Linked DNA regions of Homo sapiens: region 1 is linked to region 2. The links come from fine-mapping of genetic effects on gene expression. A gene starts in region 2. The other region holds a variant in brackets. All regions are shown on one strand. Distances are between the middles of the regions. Region 1 holds the start of LOC283299 (a long non-coding RNA gene). Region 2 holds the start of OVCH2 (ovochymase 2).

What was found. PIP is the estimated chance that this variant, and not a neighbour inherited with it, causes the effect.
Region 1: its variant is fine-mapped to the expression of OVCH2 in aorta (GTEx, PIP above 0.99).

The regions. Positions count from the first base shown.
Region 1 is chr11:7,904,092-7,909,476 of GRCh38, reverse strand. It overlaps LOC283299 (a long non-coding RNA gene), which reads left to right and starts at 3,522. Exons shown (of 8, transcript NR_036678.1): 1 at 3,522-3,874. LOC107984307 (a long non-coding RNA gene) reads right to left here and starts at 3,155. Exons shown (of 3, transcript XR_001748116.2): 1 at 2,811-3,155; 2 at 2,142-2,315. RefSeq lists enhancers at 1,258-1,801, 2,890-3,433, 3,434-3,977, 2,779-3,978. The variant C/A (reference allele first, on the strand shown) is at 2,077.
Region 2 is chr11:7,703,983-7,709,367 of GRCh38, reverse strand. OVCH2 (ovochymase 2) reads left to right here and starts at 2,891. Exons shown (of 16, transcript NM_198185.7): 1 at 2,891-3,061; 2 at 4,694-4,803. The coding sequence starts at 2,974. LOC105376533 (a long non-coding RNA gene) reads right to left here. Exons shown (of 11, transcript XR_007062576.1): 7 at 3,713-3,773; 8 at 3,090-3,143.

The DNA.
Region 1 (5,385 bases), 200 kb before region 2:
ATCGGTGGCTCACTCCTGTAATCCCAGCACTTTGGGAGGCCGAGGTGGGTGGATCACCCGAGTTCAGGAGTTCTAGACCAGCCTGGCCAACATGGTGAAACACCGTCTCTACTAAAAATAAAAAAATTAGCTGGGTGTGGTGGCAGGCACCTGTAATCCCAGCTACTCAGGGGGCCAAGGCAGGAGAATCACTTGAACCCAGGACACAGAGGTTGCAGTGAGCTGAGATCGCACCATTGCACTACAGCCTAGGGGACAAGAGGGAGACTTTGTCAAAAAAAAAAAAGAAGAAGAAGAAAGAAACTCTAAACATTATTTCACTGTTTTCTAGTTCCAGTGTAGCAAAAATGAGATTTGCTTTTATTTCTGCTCTTTTTTATTTTGGGGTATAGCTTCCACCCCACTTCTGCTTTTTAATCTAAACTCCTATGAGTATTGGAGCTATCAGATCAATTCTCCATGTTTCCTATCTTTTTCATGATAATTTTTACTTCTCATTAATTTTACGTGAATTTCAATCAAATTCATTCTGTGAATTTCTAACTCATCATTTGGTATTCAGTGTTATCTATTTTGTTACTCCATTTCTCCACAGAGTTATTTTTAAAACCATTTTAAGATTTCCCCTATATTGTTTTAAAATTGATCTCTTTTTTTTTGAGAATATGCTCTTTTAAAAATCATTGAGTCTCTCTACAATGATAATGCATATTTTCAAGTTTTCTTCTCTTTCTTGCATTTAATCTGTTTCAGTCTAGGAATATTTGCTCCGGTCCCTTGCATTGATATGTCAACGGAAAGAAGAAAAAAAATCGAGGCAAACAATGTAAGTAGAGAGTTCATTTGGACTAAGCTTGAACACTGCAACGCAAGAGCGTAGATGCAAGTTAACCTGAATATACACCCCTATGAGCAGCAGTTACAAGTGGGTTTTAAAGGAAACAAAGAGGCAGTTCCCAAGTTGTTTACCAAGAATTTACATTAAAATAACATAAGCTATTGATTGGTTATACACTGTTCTTTGTATCACAAACTCCAGGAACATGAAGATAATGGGCAAAGCAGCTAGTCAGGAACAAAATGTCTTTAAACAGTTGGCCCTGGGTATGGGTGTGAGAGGTGTGATTGAGGTCCCATAACCATACTCATGTCTCTCTGGGCCTGACAAATTTTGTATGCTTCACATAACTTAGATGGCTCTGAGCAATTTTTTTTCTCATTTCCCACCTGTTGATCAAAAATCTTTCCATGGAAACATTAATGATCAATTTCTGCTTAGGTTAGAGTGATCAATATCCTTCCTCCTTCAGTTTGAGAAGGCTCATGATGGTGCTGTCTCACATGGGAAGGAGAGGTGAGGAAATGTTACAATGAGGAATTTTAAGACTGTCAAAAGCCAAATTGAGATGGCATCACAGGTGGCAAAAATGGCACCTCAGTCAAGTATGTAGTTGCTGTTGCTTGTTGAATCATTGTTAGTCTTCAGAATATCATGAGTTTAGTCTTTGTGGAAGAAGTAAAACAAGAGATATATGTAATGCATATAGGAATTATAATCAAAAAAAGAATTTGTATATCAGAACAACAACAACAAAACCTATTCTACTGGGGAGTCAACTAAAAATATCATGAAGGAAATTAAATCCAATTTCTTCTTTGGAGGATTGTTAGAGCTGGGACATTATTCAGAATTCAGTCCAAATTGTAGACAAATAGTAAAAACTAAAAAACAACTAAAAAACAATGGTCAGGGCTAGAATCTTATAAGAAGGATGGTATAGTTTCCTTCTAAAACAATTTTTTTCTCTCCCCAGTTCCCCATTCCTACCAAATATAAATGTTAGTAGGACAAATTTATTGGCTAAATAAGTTTTAGTATTATACTTGGCCTGATTATTTGCAAAATGTGCAACAAGAAGAATGATTGGCCATATAGGCTCTTTTCCATTGACTTTGCAGAATTTTTAATAAGAAATCTCAGATTACACTTTTAAAACCTCTAAAGACTAGTAAGCCAAGCCAGGGATTCACTGTGGGACTGCTTGTAACATATGTAAAAATTGAGTGAATTCCTAT[C/A]TTCTCAATGACCCAAAATATCTTGTGGTTCCTGGGTGCATCAGAAAATGACAGTCTTTACTTACCGCAAGCTGAGGAACCTTGTAAGAGAACCGTGTGGGCAAGGCATGAGGCCAGTCTTTCCCATGTCTATTGGCTTTATAAAGTCAGCCTCAATTCCTCAAAGCAGTTTGGTCACATTCAAAAATGTAACATTCCAGCCAAAGCCTTGGTAAAATAACCGGTGTATCCAATGTGTTCTGTTACAAAAGAAAACAGATTCTTATTGATCTTATGCAAATAACTATATTGCCACAAAATACAAATACTCATGAATAGTTTCCAAATTTTAGAGAAATCAGGTAGGGAGAAATGCAGATGTTTTAATTTTGCTCACAAAAGGTTACCCAGTTGCTGTAAGCTATAATTAGCTAAAAAGAGACATTTTCTTGACTCTGGAAAACAAAACATAAAATAATCAGCAATGTTTCAAAGAGAAAAGTTAAAGAAAGCATTTCCACCCTCTGTCAGGCTAGCCCCATGTATTTAATTATTATTCAGCTGGATGTTAGGTTAGTAATATTCATGAATGCATTCATTTTTTAAATTAGAGTTCTGAAAGTTTTCACTCAGTCCAATGATATGATGGGTGGAATCTAGCCACTGGGAGTATTTCCTTTCTGTGTGTGCTGCCAGTAGATGGAAGTGCAACAAAAGCCTGGCTGCCTCCCCGCACCCCCAGCAGAGCTGCCTACCTGCACCCCCAGGAGAGCTGCCTCCCTGCACTCCCGGCAGAGCTGCCCGGGCTTCTGAGTGTAAAAATAAAATAGAGGTTCCTCTTCAAAGAGACTTTCCTCCCCGTCTAATTAGGAATAAATAGTAACTTCTCTCAGAAACAAAATTTATTCAAAGACCTGTGCTAACATTCTTAGATATCTGCTAGCTATAATAAAGAAATCAATGTACTTTGTGTTCTTAGCTCCCACAATTTAGCCTAAATATTTGCCCTGGCATGCTTACACTGGTCCAAGCAAGTATTAAGTCATAGTCTGTTCCTCTTCCTTATTTGGAGGTGTTTTTACCTTTCTCAGCATTCCACAAGTTACTTCCTCCTTTGTTCTCCTCTGCCTTTGCCTCTTTTAAAAAGTTCTAAGTTGCTGGCTAATCAGGACAAATACAGAATGTGAGGTGCAGGGAGCTGAAGGCCCCTGGGAAGTGACCAACTCAGCATTTCGCTGGAGGCTATAGGATCAAACAGCAAACTGTTTATCATGAATGCAGGATGTGGGCAAACTCACACTGCCCTGCCACCAAAAGGTTTGTTGAGGGCCTCACTCCCTGGCGCTGGGCTCCTTGAAGTTATCTATTGAGAAGTCTAGCACCTAAGAATGCAGTCTTGCAAGCCTGCTGCGAATCAAGCTGCTGGCCAACAACCACTCCCCACCTTCTCACTATCTCTATTGCCTAATAAATATGGAGGGCAGTGTAAAGCTCAGGGCCCTTGTCCACTAGAGACAAGGTGCCCTCCGACCCCTTCTTCCAAATATACTCTTTTGCCTCTTGTCTTTTATTCCCGTGTTTGCCCCCTTTGTTCAGTCCCCCTAGGTCCATGCAGGTTACATAGTGGTGCCCCAAACAGTGACACAATTGGGTTCTCAACAAGTGGTGACTCAGAACAGGGACGCCAAGGATGCCAACAAGTGGCGTCTGAACACGGGACTTCGACGATGTGAACAAAAAAGATCTGCTGGAGCAGAGAAGCTGAAATTGACAAGGCAAACGGGGACCCCAGGATGAGTCTGCCGGCAGCATATATAAGGTCAGTGCTCTAAAGAGGTACTGGGAGCAGTGCTTTATAGAAGTGCTGGGAATGGGAAGCTTTCTGAATCAGGGTAGCAGGGGGAATAACTTGTCTGTTGAAGAAAAACATTATGTGCAGTTGCTTAAAGTTCTGTTGAGACAGTCTGGAGCTCAGGTTAATTCTCAGACACTAACCTCCTGCAGAAGCCACACAAAGTTATTATGCATAACTCATGGTTTCCACAGGCAGGCACTCTTGATGTGGAAAACTGGGATAGAGCAGGAGAAGGATTAAAACAGGCTCATCAAAAAGGTCTTGAAGTTGATTCTTCTGTTTTCTCCACTTGGAGTTTAGTTTGTACTGTACTTCTGCTATTATCTCATTATTCTGCGGGACAGCAGGCTGAATCTAAAAATCTAAAAGAATCTGTTGTCCCACCCACAGCTCCAACTGAAAATAAAAAACAGGAGAGGGAGGATAAAAGTTGGCCTATACTGCCTCCTCCAGTTGCAGAAACATTTGTACCGCCTCCTTTGGTGGCAGAAATAGAGACTCCAATACAAAGAATTTTATGCTCTGCTGCAATAGCTGGAGAGCCCTTAGGACCTCACGCTTTTCCTATTTCCATAAGGCCTAATCCTAACAATGCACAGCAGGTTATTCATGAACACACTCCACTAGATTTTAACTTGTTAAAGGAATTAAAAGCGAGTGTGGTAAACAATGGCGTACAGAACCCATTCACCTTAGGATTGCTAGAATCTGTGTTTGGTGCTATGCGTCTTTTACCATTTGATGTGAAACACTTGGCGTGAATTTGCTTGTCGGCTACTGCATATCTGACATGGAATTTAAATTGGCAAGAAATGTGTGCAGACCAGGCTAGACAGAACTGTGCTGCTGGAAATGGAGACATTACAGAGGATATGCTATTAGGTAATGGCCCTTATTCAGACCTGGAACCTCAAATGGGACTCCCAGATGTTGCTTATCAGCAGTGTGCACAGGCCACTAAATGCACCTGGGCCACTATTCCTGAAGGAGTCCCAGTACAATCCTTTTTATGTATCATACAAGGGTTGCAGGAACCCTATGTGCAATTTCTTGCATGATTACAAGAGGCAGTGAAGTGTCAGATTTCTCATACTGCGGCTGCAGAAATGCTAACCTTAACACTAGCTTTTGAGGATGCAAACACGGATTGTAAATGTGCACTGGCACTGGTGAGGTGTACAAAAAACTTGGGAAATTTTCTCAGAGCTTGTCAAGATGTAGGAACTGAGCTTCATCACTCTGCAATGTTAGCACAAGCAATAGCTAATTTATCAGTTGACAAATCTAAAAGGAGCCAAGGGTCAAACCCCAAAACGGGAAAATATTATAAATGTGGAAAAACTGGACATTTTAAAAAGGAATGCTGCCAGATCTCAGGACAGAAAGGACCTTACAATGCAGTGCCCCACCCAGCAGAATAAACACCAGGATTCTGTCCTCACTGTATGAAAGGAAATCACTGGGCTAATCAGTGC
Region 2 (5,385 bases):
AACAAATGAACTCATAGCAGTGCTGGAAAACCTGAACAAGGAAAGCTACTTTTAGTGGCCCCAAATTATGAATATTTCTAGAACGATAAAAAGTAGATGGAATTCAATTAAGGAAAGAACCACAACCTAACATGCCTGTTAGGAGAAAACTGCTGAAAAAGTTCTGGAGTAGACCCACTCCAATTTATTCCAAGTAAGAACCAGTTGGTGTTTTCCCCTGGGAGGGAGATGTGAGGGGGTATTTGGGCCCATGGGGCAGGGCAATTCCAGGTGGCTGGAAACTTCAGGGAGAATGAGAAGCAGACAGGTCCAGAAACCCAACTCCTGGGACTCTCTACCAGACAGTACATTCTGTTACTTTCTCTGGGCCACTGGAGGTGGCTGAGAACATTCCTGGTGATGAGTGTTTATGGCACTGTTGACCAAAATTGAGGCTGTCAAGACAGAAAAAAATCTATAAAGGTTTATTGAACCTCAAATGTGTGGATTGACCCAGGAAGACACAGCAACAAAGTTGGAGTGTTCTGAGGTCTGTCAGAAGGTGAAAGGTTTTGACAGAAAAATCTGAAAAGACAGAGAGAGATTGCTCATACTGGAGTTGTTCTCTTTTCATTGGAGGGTACAATACAGAAGTTATAATCATTAGCTATGGATTATATCACAGGGTTATAGGAACACATTAAAGTCACAGCTCTGCAATCAGCAAAATACAGAATGTAGAAAATGCTAAAGGTCTAAATAACCAATTCTTTCAACAAAAATAATTGCTGCAAAAAAGAGAGAAGAAGGTTATAACAGGTAGACCTGAGATTTTCTAGGTATAGAATCATATCATCTGTGAAGAGAGACAGTTTTGCTTTCAGGAGAAATTTTGATACTAATTTCTCAACTTGGGGATTTACAGACAGGGAAAACAATGTATTTGAATTCCAAATCCATGTTTGGTGCAGACTTTGGTCCAAGATTCTCAAGAGAGATTTTTTCCCCTTTAAAAGGTTTAATAGTTTCATGAATGAAAAATTGATTTTATACTACCATGCCAAGCAACACTTTAATATATTCCTGTCTGCAAGTAACTACAATGTACAGTTATTATAATTCCTATCCAGACCCTGGGAGGGTTGAATAGCTGGACTTACAAAAATATAGTGTCTTAGAACCTGCTACATCCCCCATGAAGAGCAAATATTTTAACAGCAAGGGGGCCACATTTTAGCCCCTTAAGAGATGAAAGTAACAAACTCTTAATGACCAGCTTCATGTGGTGAAGAGTGTGTTGATGTGTACTGATAGTTGTGCTGATGCAAGAGCTTGAAGCAAATACCCTCTCCTGAAATTAAGCACTAAGCAAGAGCTCATCATATTTCTGTGTGACAATCAATAAAAACGCTCCACTCCCACATTTTACAAAGGAAAACTCATCATTCTTTCAGTATAGAGTCAAATTTTATTGTCCTATGCTATGTGCCTACTTTAGGCTTGTCAAGTTTAGTGCATCCTAGGCCCACACTAGGTCTTTCTGCACTTTTGACATTAACAGTATACACATTTTAGACAGAATGTAGTGAATTTGGGGTCAGAAAGGCCATATTCCTAGTCAAGTTGCTCTCAAAAGTGATTGATAAAACACAATAGCAATTTAAAGGGAGCTTGCTGTCAAAGAAAGATTGAGACTTTGATTAGGGCTTAGACATTGATTGATTACCTCTTGGGGCTATCACTCCATACCAATAGCCAAAAATGTTTGGCATCAGGATTACAGTAGTTATAGATAAAGCCTCAATAGAGGTTTGAGTTTCCTTCTTTCCATAAGGCTACATTCTTGATTAGTGTACCTAAATATGTAGTGCTTACAAATGTTAAGTTTTTACACCTTCTCTGTTTTGCATTTATATTATTTGTATGTGTTGTATTTTCATACTTTTTTGTACAAAGACAAAAGTTGCCAAAAGGAAATTAAGAGCTTTTGGGCTGACATTTGTTATTTTTAGTGGGTAACTTATAAAAGTTGACAGAAAAATGTTATATTTCTATCTGGTCATAGATGGCATTGACCATCCTATAAATATTTCTCACACACTGACCATGTGCCCAAAACTCGTTGAGGAAAGAGGAAAATGTACAGGTAATCATAGCCACTTTACTCTCCCAAGCATCTACCAGGCATAGAAGTAAAGGAGATTTAGTGTTTCCCTTCTATAAATACAAAAATGATAGGAGAATGCAGAGTCACAAATGCCCCAATGTACAGTATCCTAGATGACTTTCTAACAGCAGGGCTTCCTGAGTGTGACACCCAAATATCTTTCCACTTCTCTCATTCACCAACATATGTTTATAATAACCATGTAGTTACATTTGCAAAATAAGATAAATAAAAATATTTTAGAATATTGGCTGGGCGTGGTGGCTCACACTTGTAATCCCAGACCTTTGGGAGGGCAAGGCAGGCAGATCCCTTGAGCCCAGGAGTTTGAGATCAGCCTGGGCAACATGATGAAACTCCATCTCTGCCCAAAAAAATTATATACATTTGGATGGGTCGTTTGCAAAAAAGTAGGGAAGTGTACCCTTGCAAACAAGGACAACATTGATAGTCAATCTTCTTATAGAAAGTGGTAAAAGTGGTAAGCTCTACAAAGGAGCAAGTAATGTTTGCAGATGCAAATCTTACATGCTAACCACTTTGCTAGCCAGATACACTCTGGAGGAATCAACTAATTGGTGTAGGTGTAATAGGATATGTAATATTGCTTGATCAAGACTCTGCTTCTGTGGTTGTTTCTCCACATCTTCCAAAAGATCTTTGCGAAACACTACATTCAGAAACATCAGATGGACATGCTTGATTCACCACGTCTTGGTTAATGAATAAACTTGTTTTAAATTGGCTTATTGCTGGTCTCTCAAGGCTTCCTATTTTTGTTTGCTTTAGTCTCTCTAAAATTTCAGGGAAAAACTATGAGTCTCAAAATGCTTATAAGCAGGAACAAGCTGATTTTACTACTAGGAATAGTCTTTTTTGAACGAGGTAAATCTGCAACTCTTTCGCTCCCCAAAGGTAAGTTTCAAATGAACTCTATAATTACCTTTGTCTGAACCTTTGCTGGCAATGGACGTCACAACTCCGAGACTCCATGTTCCTTTGGGAAAATAGGAGAAGCAAATATATTTTGGATATCTAATTGTTTTTAAACAATTATTTTGGACTTATCTCCTGCAATCGGCATAGGACACAGGGTGAAACATTTATAGAATGCAACTAATGTATCCAATTAAGTAAACAATCCCTGTTTTCTTCGCTTAGTTTTCCTAAGTGAACTGAGATTGTTCACTTACTTGAACCCATTACATAATCCCATCTTGGTTCATAGAGCAAATTCTGGAAATCAGCATGGATTTGGAAGCATTTTTAATCTTTTACAAAATCATCTTGCTGAGAAATATGAAGCATGTTCACTGTAGTATATTATAAATGGTCTTTTTTCCCCTTCAACTAACTTAAGCTGAAAACAGTTCTTGGAAGATTTCTCCTTGGTCAGACTTGTGCCAACCCTGAGAATCAACATGTTTTCTGACTTTGCTTTACTGAATTTGGGAAATAGTAAATTTTGTATTTAAAGTATTTATGACTCATTCAACTGAAACAGTTAGAAAATAAGCTTTTGTTCCAATGTCATCCTGGCACTGGGTTCAGGATCAAAACACTTACTGTTACATTCATGCTCTGCCATTATCCAGCTGTGTGTCTCCTTGATTCTCAGTTTTCTCATCTGCAATGTGGGGATAACAGTGCTTCATTTATAGGCATAGAGTGGGATTAAATGAGAAGCTGTATGAAAGAGCTTTGAATATTTTAACATGTTGATCTAAATAGCTATACTCTTAAGGATGTGTTCTCAAGAAAAGTCATTTGTTTGTCCATCCAGTGTTTCTAAGTGCTTACTTATGCCAAGAATTAAGCTAAACCTTAGAAATGCAGAGGTGAATAAGGCAAGTTTTTTCCCTTGAGTAGTTCATAGTCCGATGATAGAGGCAAATAATTCATTATCACAATTCTGCATGACAAGAACTATAAAAGGGGTGAAGAAAGCGTGCTACACAACACAAGGGAGAGGCAATCCCACTTTGAGGAAATCAAGGAAGACTTCCTGGTTGAGGTGATCTCCAAGCTGAGGAATAAGAATTACAGAATTTAGGTAGGCAATGAAGCATGGTGATTATGAAGCAAGGCTAGTTCTAATCCTCCTTCAAAATATGGAAAAGGATGACCTCCAGGAGGGACAGAAGATGTGCCATCCTTGAGTTACCAGGTGATGTTAAACATCTTTAATCTAGTCTACCTCTTTGCTGAGGAGTCAGAAAACCCATTGAGGGCAAATAAATAAAAACAACTTTTTCAGGGATAAAGTATTTTACATAAAGAGGGAGGAGTTTTTTCTTCTATTACCTAGCAAACCTCTATCCGAGTACCAACTTGTGAATCAGGACACTTCACTCCACTCTCCTTAAATGACCTGTCACTTTTCATCCCTCAAGAGAATTAAATCCAATAAAGATTTATTGATATCTGAATGTGTGCTGAGCACCATACACCATAGTCTCAGACTCAGTTTCATGGGTGAAATGGAGAAGATATTACCTCAATCCTAGAAGCTATCTAATCATTTAGTTTGTCTCGTTTTTTTCTCAGCTCCCAGTTGTGGGCAGAGTCTGGTTAAGGTACAGCCTTGGAATTATTTTAACATTTTCAGTCGCATTCTTGGAGGAAGCCAAGTGGAGAAGGGTTCCTATCCCTGGCAGGTGAGTCTCAAGGACTTCTATGCATCAAGAACTGTGCTAGATATTATGGATATAGATATTTTTAAGGTTAAGTTTATATCTTTGAGGAGCCTACAGCCTAGTTGGGTTGAAAGACAGAATAGTCATCATGGCATGTGATGAATGTCATAAGAAAAAGTATTTACTTGTACATAGTAAGTCATTTTAGAATCAAATCAAGTATCACAAATAGGATAAGCAAAAATTAGAAAGTATATTGGAGAGGTAGGGTAAAGAATAGGCTTGAAGAAGCTATAGGGGTCAAATAGTTAAGAGTATGAGAAAAGTGGTAGATCCAAACCATTTCCCTAAGAGGCTTAGAGAAATAGGAGTATGTGTTGAAAGGCTCCCCAGCCCTCACCTTGCCTTTCTTCCAAACCTCTTCAGCTGGACTCTGCAATATCTTATACTATTTTACCTTCATTCACAGACACTGTTCATATTGTTAGAGCAACAGGTCTGCATCAACTGTGTTATAAAAATAAGTAAATACATCTCACCACTTCTAACTGCTACCTCTGTTGACACATACTTACAGCCAGTCATCTCAAATTAACTACCTCT